Homo sapiens: one gene and its partner. The protein of the gene in region 1 interacts with the protein of each later gene in a biochemical or structural test. Each region holds a gene or a part of one and is shown on either strand. Other genes may lie near its edges. The genes, in order: ARHGEF7 and PAK2.

Region 1 (3,823 bases):
CAGTTGTGCGGTTTCATTTTCTGTAGGACTTACAGCTGTTAAAGTACTTATATGCATTACGAATCTTGGAAAGGAGTTCACAGTGTGTAGCATTTTTTAAATACGCTTGGCCACAGAAGTGTCCAGCAGTCTCCTCTTCCACCGGCCATGCTTTAGGATGAGATTTCTCAGCCTGGGCACTGCTGACGTTCTGGACTGGATCGTTCATGGCCAGGGGCTGGGGGTCTCGGTGAGACTGTCCTGGGCACTGTAGGGTATCAGCAGCCTCTCTGGCCCTTACTTGCTGGAGGTCTGAGCCCCTGCCAGGTTGTGGCACTGCCACCCATTCTCTGTGGGGGCACGTTCCCCACACCAGTTGAGCAGCACTCCGTCTGGAGGTGCTTATGTAGAATCCTGCTCCGCAGCTGATGGAGTGCTCCCCAGGCAGCGCTGCCCAGACGCCCACTGCCTCTTCCTGCGGACTTGGTGGGCCACCATGTACTGTGGTTTCTGTCAGCTGTGCCAGGATGTTTTGTGTTCACTTCTGACTTGTTTGTAATGATCACTTTGTACCCCCTTTCTGGTATCTTTCCATTGACATTTCCTGGTGCAGTTACCGATTTCTTCTGTTTTCAGGGAGCACTGGTTTGCCAACCATTTTGTGCATTGTGTGCAGCATTTAGCACAACTACTTATTTTCTGTTTTACAAAGTAGAATGTTATGAAATTCTTGTTCTTGCCTCAATTTCCCACCCTTATTTTGACTTTAAACTTGGAACTTCCTCTGCATTTCTTTACGAGGAAAATACATGGTTCTTTTCTGCAAAAACATCATTTAAAACAACTGTTATACACGGTAGTTTTTTAAAAATCATAATGTGTGATGTCTTTTGTCCTGGTGTCTATGTTTAGTAGCAGCTCATCAGATACAGTGTGTGTTTGGGCTTGTCACTCTGTCCCTTGTCGCCAGTTGAGTTTCTTGCTTACAGTACAGTATTATAATTTATTATTTGAGATAAAAATTTTTGTATTATACACACATCTGCTACAAATGAGCTTTTTTTGGTTCACAAACACAGTTCCTCCACCAATTCTAAAATCATTTAATATTGACTTTAATAATGGTACCTTTTTCTAGAAAAGCACTAATTGTTTTTTTTTTTGTGGGGGGGGGTCTTTTTTAGGGAAAGCTTCCAACGACAGGAATGACAATCACAAAGCTTGAGGACAGTGAAAATCATAGAAATGCATTTGAAATATCAGGTGATAGGCACAAGCTGTGTGAGTGCTGTGTCTCGGGGAGGAGAGGCAGCTTGTCCCCGCGTGCAGATTCTTGCTTGCGTATTTCAGAAGGTGGTGTTTAAGCGCTGAGTGGAATTCTGGGGGGTGTGCACGCACGTGCTTTTTACCTGTGTTTCCACTCGGCCTATTTTTTCCTTCTCTCCTATAGGGAGCATGATTGAGCGGATATTAGTGTCGTGCAACAACCAGCAGGATCTGCAGGAATGGGTGGAGCACCTACAGAAGCAAACGAAGGTCACGTCTGTGGGAAACCCCACCATAAAGCCTCATTCAGTGCCATCTCATACCGTAAGGACTTGGTGCTTCTCCTCCTTCCAGACTCCAGGCGTGGCATCCCGTGGCTGAGCTGTCAGCAAGTGATCAGTTGCTTTAAAACCTAATCAATATTTGGATAAAAAGTGCAAAACACTTGCTTCACATTTCTCTGCAGATCTTTGGCCCTCTTCGTGCAGTAGTGAATTGTTTTCCAATGAGTGTTCTCGAGAAACAACCCTGAATTGTGCCTCCTCACGCACAGTTCAGAGGTGCTTGGGTGGGAAGCTGCTTCTGCTCCGTGTGGCCCTAGAAGACTGATTTAGGGGAGTTTTACACTCAACTATAGATGATTTTTCTGAGAATTTTAACTGTTTATTATGCTTCATTTAAGAAAACAAAAAATAAATGATTATGATGATGAAAAGGGCCAGACTCATGTTGAAGGCATTAAAAGAATTTATGACACACTGTTGATTTTAAGAAATTGAGGTGTCTTTTACTTAGAAAAGCTCAACAAGTCTTTGGATATTTAGAGACTTTTTTTTTTTTTTTTTTTTTTTTTTTTACAACTTTTCAGAATAGATGAACACTGAAGCTTCAGTGTTTAAACCTCTCCTGGTGTTTTGTGCTCAAGAAGTTGGTATCGGGTTGTTTTAACAGTCGTCATCTTTATCAAGTAATACGGAAAAACTGGGCAGAGCTTTTAAAGAATGAATGACGATGACACAGGCGTTTTCTGCTTACAGATTTCCTCACATCCTTATTAGGCTATTAGGATCAGCTCTGTCGTGTGCTCAGTTTTCATGTTTTCTTCTTCATGTGAAGGTTGTAGCTCAAGAAGGATTGCTGTACTCTGATATTCTCATCAGAGTTTCAGAGTCCATCTGATTTCTTTCAGCAGTAAAGATTGTAACTACTCATTGGCTTTTAGCTAGCATTTCATTTTTAATGGCTCTACCATTTTAAAATTCTCCATTCTTTCATGGAGATCAGTTTATCCCAGGGACGTGTGTGTACACGTGTGTTTATAAAGAACAGTGGATGAGCTGCTTCACTCAGGTTTTCAACAGCAGCCTGAAACTCTACTTCATACAATTTTATATCAAGTCAGCTTTTCTCTGTGGCCAGACCCTCCGTCTTAGTGTTTCTTTCACTGGTGGCTGGGAAGGCATCCCTTCAGCGGGGAAGGCACTGTGCCTCATGTTTAAAATGTTCTGCATTCTCCTACAGAGTTTCTTGTGTGGGATGATGTATTCTGTGATCCAACTCTGACCAGCTGAAATCATTTTCTAATTTTAGCATAAAGCATACTTCCTTTGACTTTTTCAAGAAAGGAGAAACAAAACCAGACACTGCTTTGACGTTGTTGCTAGAAGGGATGTCTTACATAATTTTATCCATCTATACATTATTTCCTATGAAAAGATGACCTTACAGTGGCTTCATAGCATGACCTGCATCTCACACAATTCCCTCCCCCATGCAGGGACTAGAATGTGATCGTTGCAGGAAGTTGATGGCTTCTATTCTTGAAATTGTGGCATTAGCTGCCGTCCCTCTCAGCCTGTGTTTTGAAGGTCGCGCACTTCCTCAGAATGCCGGCCCCACTCCGTTTCCAGTTCACAGCGCCACACAGCTTGTTCTCCCATTAAATGCACCTTACTATTGTTGGCTAATTTGAGGTCATTATTGGCTGATTTTGAGAATGACTTATTTAACTTTTCTCATTTAACTGTCATTGTGATGGAATATTTTGGGTTTTCCAGGAATATAAAATGCATTAATGGCACACCGCTCTAAGAAGTTAATTTTTGATTAACTTTGTTTTGATTAAAGTTGAGTTTTCTAAGAACATAATTGGTTTTAATACCAGGGTTTGGCAGTGTTCAGTAAAGATCCAGATGGTAAACGTTCTCTGCTTTACAGGTTCAGGCCTCTTGCAGCTGTACTCTGCCCTTGGAACACAACAGCAGTTTTAGACAGGCACAGGCCTGCCTGTGTGCCAGGAAAACTTTTTTAAAAAACAAAACTAGGCGATCAGGCCTTAGTTTCGCCCAGTACTTTATCACCAGGTGAAGAATAATACGTGGCTGGGGGGGAATCACCTTCCTTCTTACAGCCACATGCCCTGTGTGCTTTTGTGAAATTCTCATCTTTTTACTAGATGAAGTACCTTTTTTCTATAAATGTTACTCCGTAGCTAATAAATGTGGCTAGTGGATGTCTTTTGAGTGCTGGGGCCCCAGCTAGAGCTGCCCCTCCTGTCTGGGGCAGACGCCGTGAGGAG
Region 2 (3,823 bases), on another chromosome or scaffold:
AACCCAGAAGACGGTGCGTGCAGTGAGCCAAGATTGCGCCACTGCACTCCAGCCTGGGCGACAGAGCGAGACTCTAACTCAAAAAAAATAAAAATAAAATAAATAAATAAATAAAATAAAATAAAATATAAAAAAATAAAACTCCAGGAGACTGTTTCCTCCCAATTGAGAAACTGCAAATAAAACGACTGTTTCCAAAAACTGACTGTGTTTATGCGATAACTTAAGTTTCAGATGACTCTGAAGACTGACAAGGTTCAACTGTTCAGCACCTTTCCACAGTCTATATTCAGTAAAATAGTACCAGAAGGAAAACTGAGGGATGGAGAGGAAAATATATGCTAGCAAGTTCTTTGTGTTCACGTTTGTATATGTTAACATTACCAAAACTAACTAAACTGTTCTGAAGGTCATTATAAATTTTAGTTACATTAAGTATCACATCAAGGAATTTCTATTTAATACGGCTTCTTCAACTAATCAGGTGGCTAGCTAAAAACACCTATTGAGTAGTTATTTACCTCTGATGGCTGTAATTTATTTTAGAAAGCAAAATAAAAACTGAGATTTGTCTTGGGTAACCTAAATTAGAACAAGAGATACAAGAAATAATATAATTAACTTACTGCTGGTGTTCCAGAAGGAAAGCCATCTTTCTCTGAATATGAAACAAAACATAACATTAGCAATTCAAGAAACAGCACTTTTATATGATAAAAGGAAAAAAAAAAAGCAGAGAAAGTGAAATGTTCTTAAACTGATTTCAAGTTGAATTAACTCTTGAGAAAAATGAACACGCAAGTAGTCAAATAAGAATTTATATAAGACCAAGGTAAGAAATCTGAAATCTACATGAAACTATAAATTTAGTAAAAATCAGTGAATTATATATTTAAAATGGGTGAATTGTATTGCATGTAAATTATACCTCAATAAAGCTATCAAAATTTAGTTTGAAAGTATACCTATCAATCTGTATTTATTAAAACAAAACAAATTTATTGATAAAGATACTTTCTCCAGAAAACTGCTGACTGAGGAACTTAATGCAACAATTAAGACAATGACAATTGTGCAAAGTAAAATTCTGACATTGTTTTGTTTTTCTTTTAAAAATGCCCAGAGACATACATATATGTGTGTGTGTGTGTATATGTGTGTGTGTATATATATATATATATGTGTATATATATATATATATATCACACACACACACACATATCACATATTACATACGCACAGGCCGGGCGCGGTGGCTCATGCCTGTAATCCTAGCACTTTGGGAGGCCGAGAGACAGGCAGATCACCTGAGGTTGGGAGTTCAAGACCAGCCTGACCAACATGGAGAAACCCAGTCTCTACTAAAAATACAAAATTAGCCAGGTGTGGCGGCGCATGCTTGTAATCTCAGCTACTCAGGAGGCTGAGGCAGGAGAATTGCTTGAACCCGGGAGGCGGGGGTTCTGGCAAGCCGAGATTGTGCCACTGCACTCCAGCCTGGGCAACAGAGTAAACTCCAGCTCAAAAACAAAACAAAACACACACACGCACGCGCGTGCGCACACACATATATGTATGTATGTGTACTAGGTGAAAATAAGCTACCATTTTGTGGTCAAACATTGGTTTTTCAAAAAAATTACTAATTTACACACAGACTTACTGGTTGATAGAAAAGTTCTAGGAGCAAGTGTGACCTTTTCCTAACGGTGTACTAGACTCAACAAAAAAAGGTCAAGATCACTTGAAAAAGATTTCTATTTCTCCCTTGCACATGGCCTTTGTTTCTGTGAGGATGCAAACAGTAAGTAAAATCAATTAAAACCACATGTACGATTTTAGCTCCATCATATTGCTTTTGAAAACCACATGTATGACTTCAGAGACAGACAAACATATTGAAAAATGACATCCTGAGGATGTAGTGAGCAAAATCTAAACTGAGGGAAACAGGACAAATGATCTTGTTTCTGTAATAAATAAACGTCAAGAAAAGACAGCATGAACCAGTGTGTGGGAGGGGAAGCCTAAAGATCAAAAGAGATTCAAGAGATGTATCAACCAACTGCGTTGTATGAACTTTATTCTGATCTTTATTTGAACAAAAACTATTTTTAAAAATCCACTACACCAACTCTTACACTATATACCAATTCACTGGTTCTCTCATAGGTTAACGGTATATCTCAGATACTGAGCAACTTGGAAAACAAAGTACATCAAACCCCATTTCCATCCAGCTATATTCATCCAGAAAGTAAAATTTGCATTACTGTGACTATGTAGATGATATTCCAGATATTCCATTTCTGAGGTATAAATCCTTTTAGTTCTAACGCTTCTTTCGTATATGATTTATCTGTTTTATATATTAAAATACATATATTCTATTATCTGCACACTTGCGAGTTTCAATTTTTTGAGTGGACCTAAACATTTTTTAGTTCAACCTCCTCTTGTCCCGCTAACAATAAATGTGTTTCTAGTATGAACATGTCTATCAACCAGCGTCTTTTCCTTTGATTGCTGGAAGTCATTTAAAAGCAGTGAAGAGTGAAAAATGAAAACAAAAACACAGCAATGAGGAGAAAAAACCAAATAAACAAAAAGCCAAAATATCCATCAACTCCCGTTTCTGGCAAACCTATGAGATTACTATAATTCACAGATCCAAATTATGCTTCAGAACTGCCCTGGATCAGTCTACAAAAGGTAGAATCTATCCAGGGAAAAACCGTTATCAACAAGAACCATAGTTTAGCTTTTCATTTTTCCAGGAGTAATCTTTTTATCTAGAAGTGCTTCACAAATCTCCATCTGATCCAGCCTTATGCCACTCTCTTACCAGGAGGAGTAAAGCTCAGATATTTCTGCTTCACTGTGTTGGAGTCGTAGAACTTTAGGACATCCAGCACAGCCTGAGGATTCTTCTTTTGCTCTAGTTTGGTGATATTGGAGGTCTGTAGTAATCGAGCCCACTGTTCTGGCATGCCCTAACAAGAAGATATTCAGAAATTAGTTATGGTTTAAATTGATGCAATAAAATTAATTTCCAGAGATAAATGACAAAATACACAAAACAAACCAATCTTTTGAGTGTAGGTTTGAGTAAATTTTAAAAGATCTCATTTTCTAAAGGTCTATTTTTTCTTTTTTCTTTTTTTGAGACAGAGTCTCACTCTGTCACCCAGGCTGGAGTGCAGTCGTGCGAGATCTCGGCTCACTGCAAGCTCCACCTCCCGGGTTCAGGCCATTCTCCTGCCTCAGCCTCCAGAGTGGCTGGGACTACAGGTGCCCGCCACCACGCCTGGCTAATTTTTTGTATTTTTAGTAGAGACGGGGTTTCACCATGTTAGCCAGGATAGTTTCAATCTCCTGACCTCGTGATCCACCCGCCTCGGCCTCCCAAAGTGCTGGGATTACACAGGCGTGAGCCACCGCGCCCGGCCTAGGTCTATTTTTTCTAAGTCTGTTTTGCATAACTATAATTAATAGGCTCTGCTCTCTAGGAAAACGATATATCCAACCACTAACACTTTTATAAAAAGCAAAAAGCAGTAAGAATTCATAGTTAACGTATAGATAGAAATGTTAATTTCCCTTTTTTTGAGACGGAGTTTCACTCTTCTTGCCCAGGCTGGAGTGCAATGGCACAGTCTCTGTTCACTGCAACCTCCATCTCCGAGGTTCAAATGATTCCCCTGCCTCAGCCTCCTGAGTAGTTGGAATTACAGGCATACACCCCCACGCTTGGCTAATTTTCTTGTATTTTTAGTAGGGATGGGGTTTCACCATGTTGGCCACACTGGTCTCGAACTCCTGA

Evidence for each region.
Region 2: the proteins of ARHGEF7 (region 1) and PAK2 form a complex in vitro, tested with the Homo sapiens proteins (one study listed by BioGRID).

Annotation. Positions count from the first base shown.
Region 1 is NC_000013.11:111,279,109-111,282,931, forward strand, and holds part of ARHGEF7 (rho guanine nucleotide exchange factor 7), read left to right. Parts: intron 1-1,163; coding exon 1,164-1,242; intron 1,243-1,429; coding exon 1,430-1,569; coding exon of another isoform or gene 1,570-1,626; exon of another isoform or gene 1,627-2,016; intron 2,017-3,823. UniProt on the Homo sapiens protein: Acts as a RAC1 guanine nucleotide exchange factor (GEF) and can induce membrane ruffling. Functions in cell migration, attachment and cell spreading. Promotes targeting of RAC1 to focal adhesions. May function as a positive regulator of apoptosis.
Region 2 is NC_000003.12:196,802,187-196,806,009, reverse strand, and holds part of PAK2 (serine/threonine-protein kinase PAK 2), read right to left. Parts: intron 2,994-3,823; coding exon 2,846-2,993; intron 659-2,845; coding exon 627-658; intron 1-626. UniProt on the Homo sapiens protein: Serine/threonine protein kinase that plays a role in a variety of different signaling pathways including cytoskeleton regulation, cell motility, cell cycle progression, apoptosis or proliferation.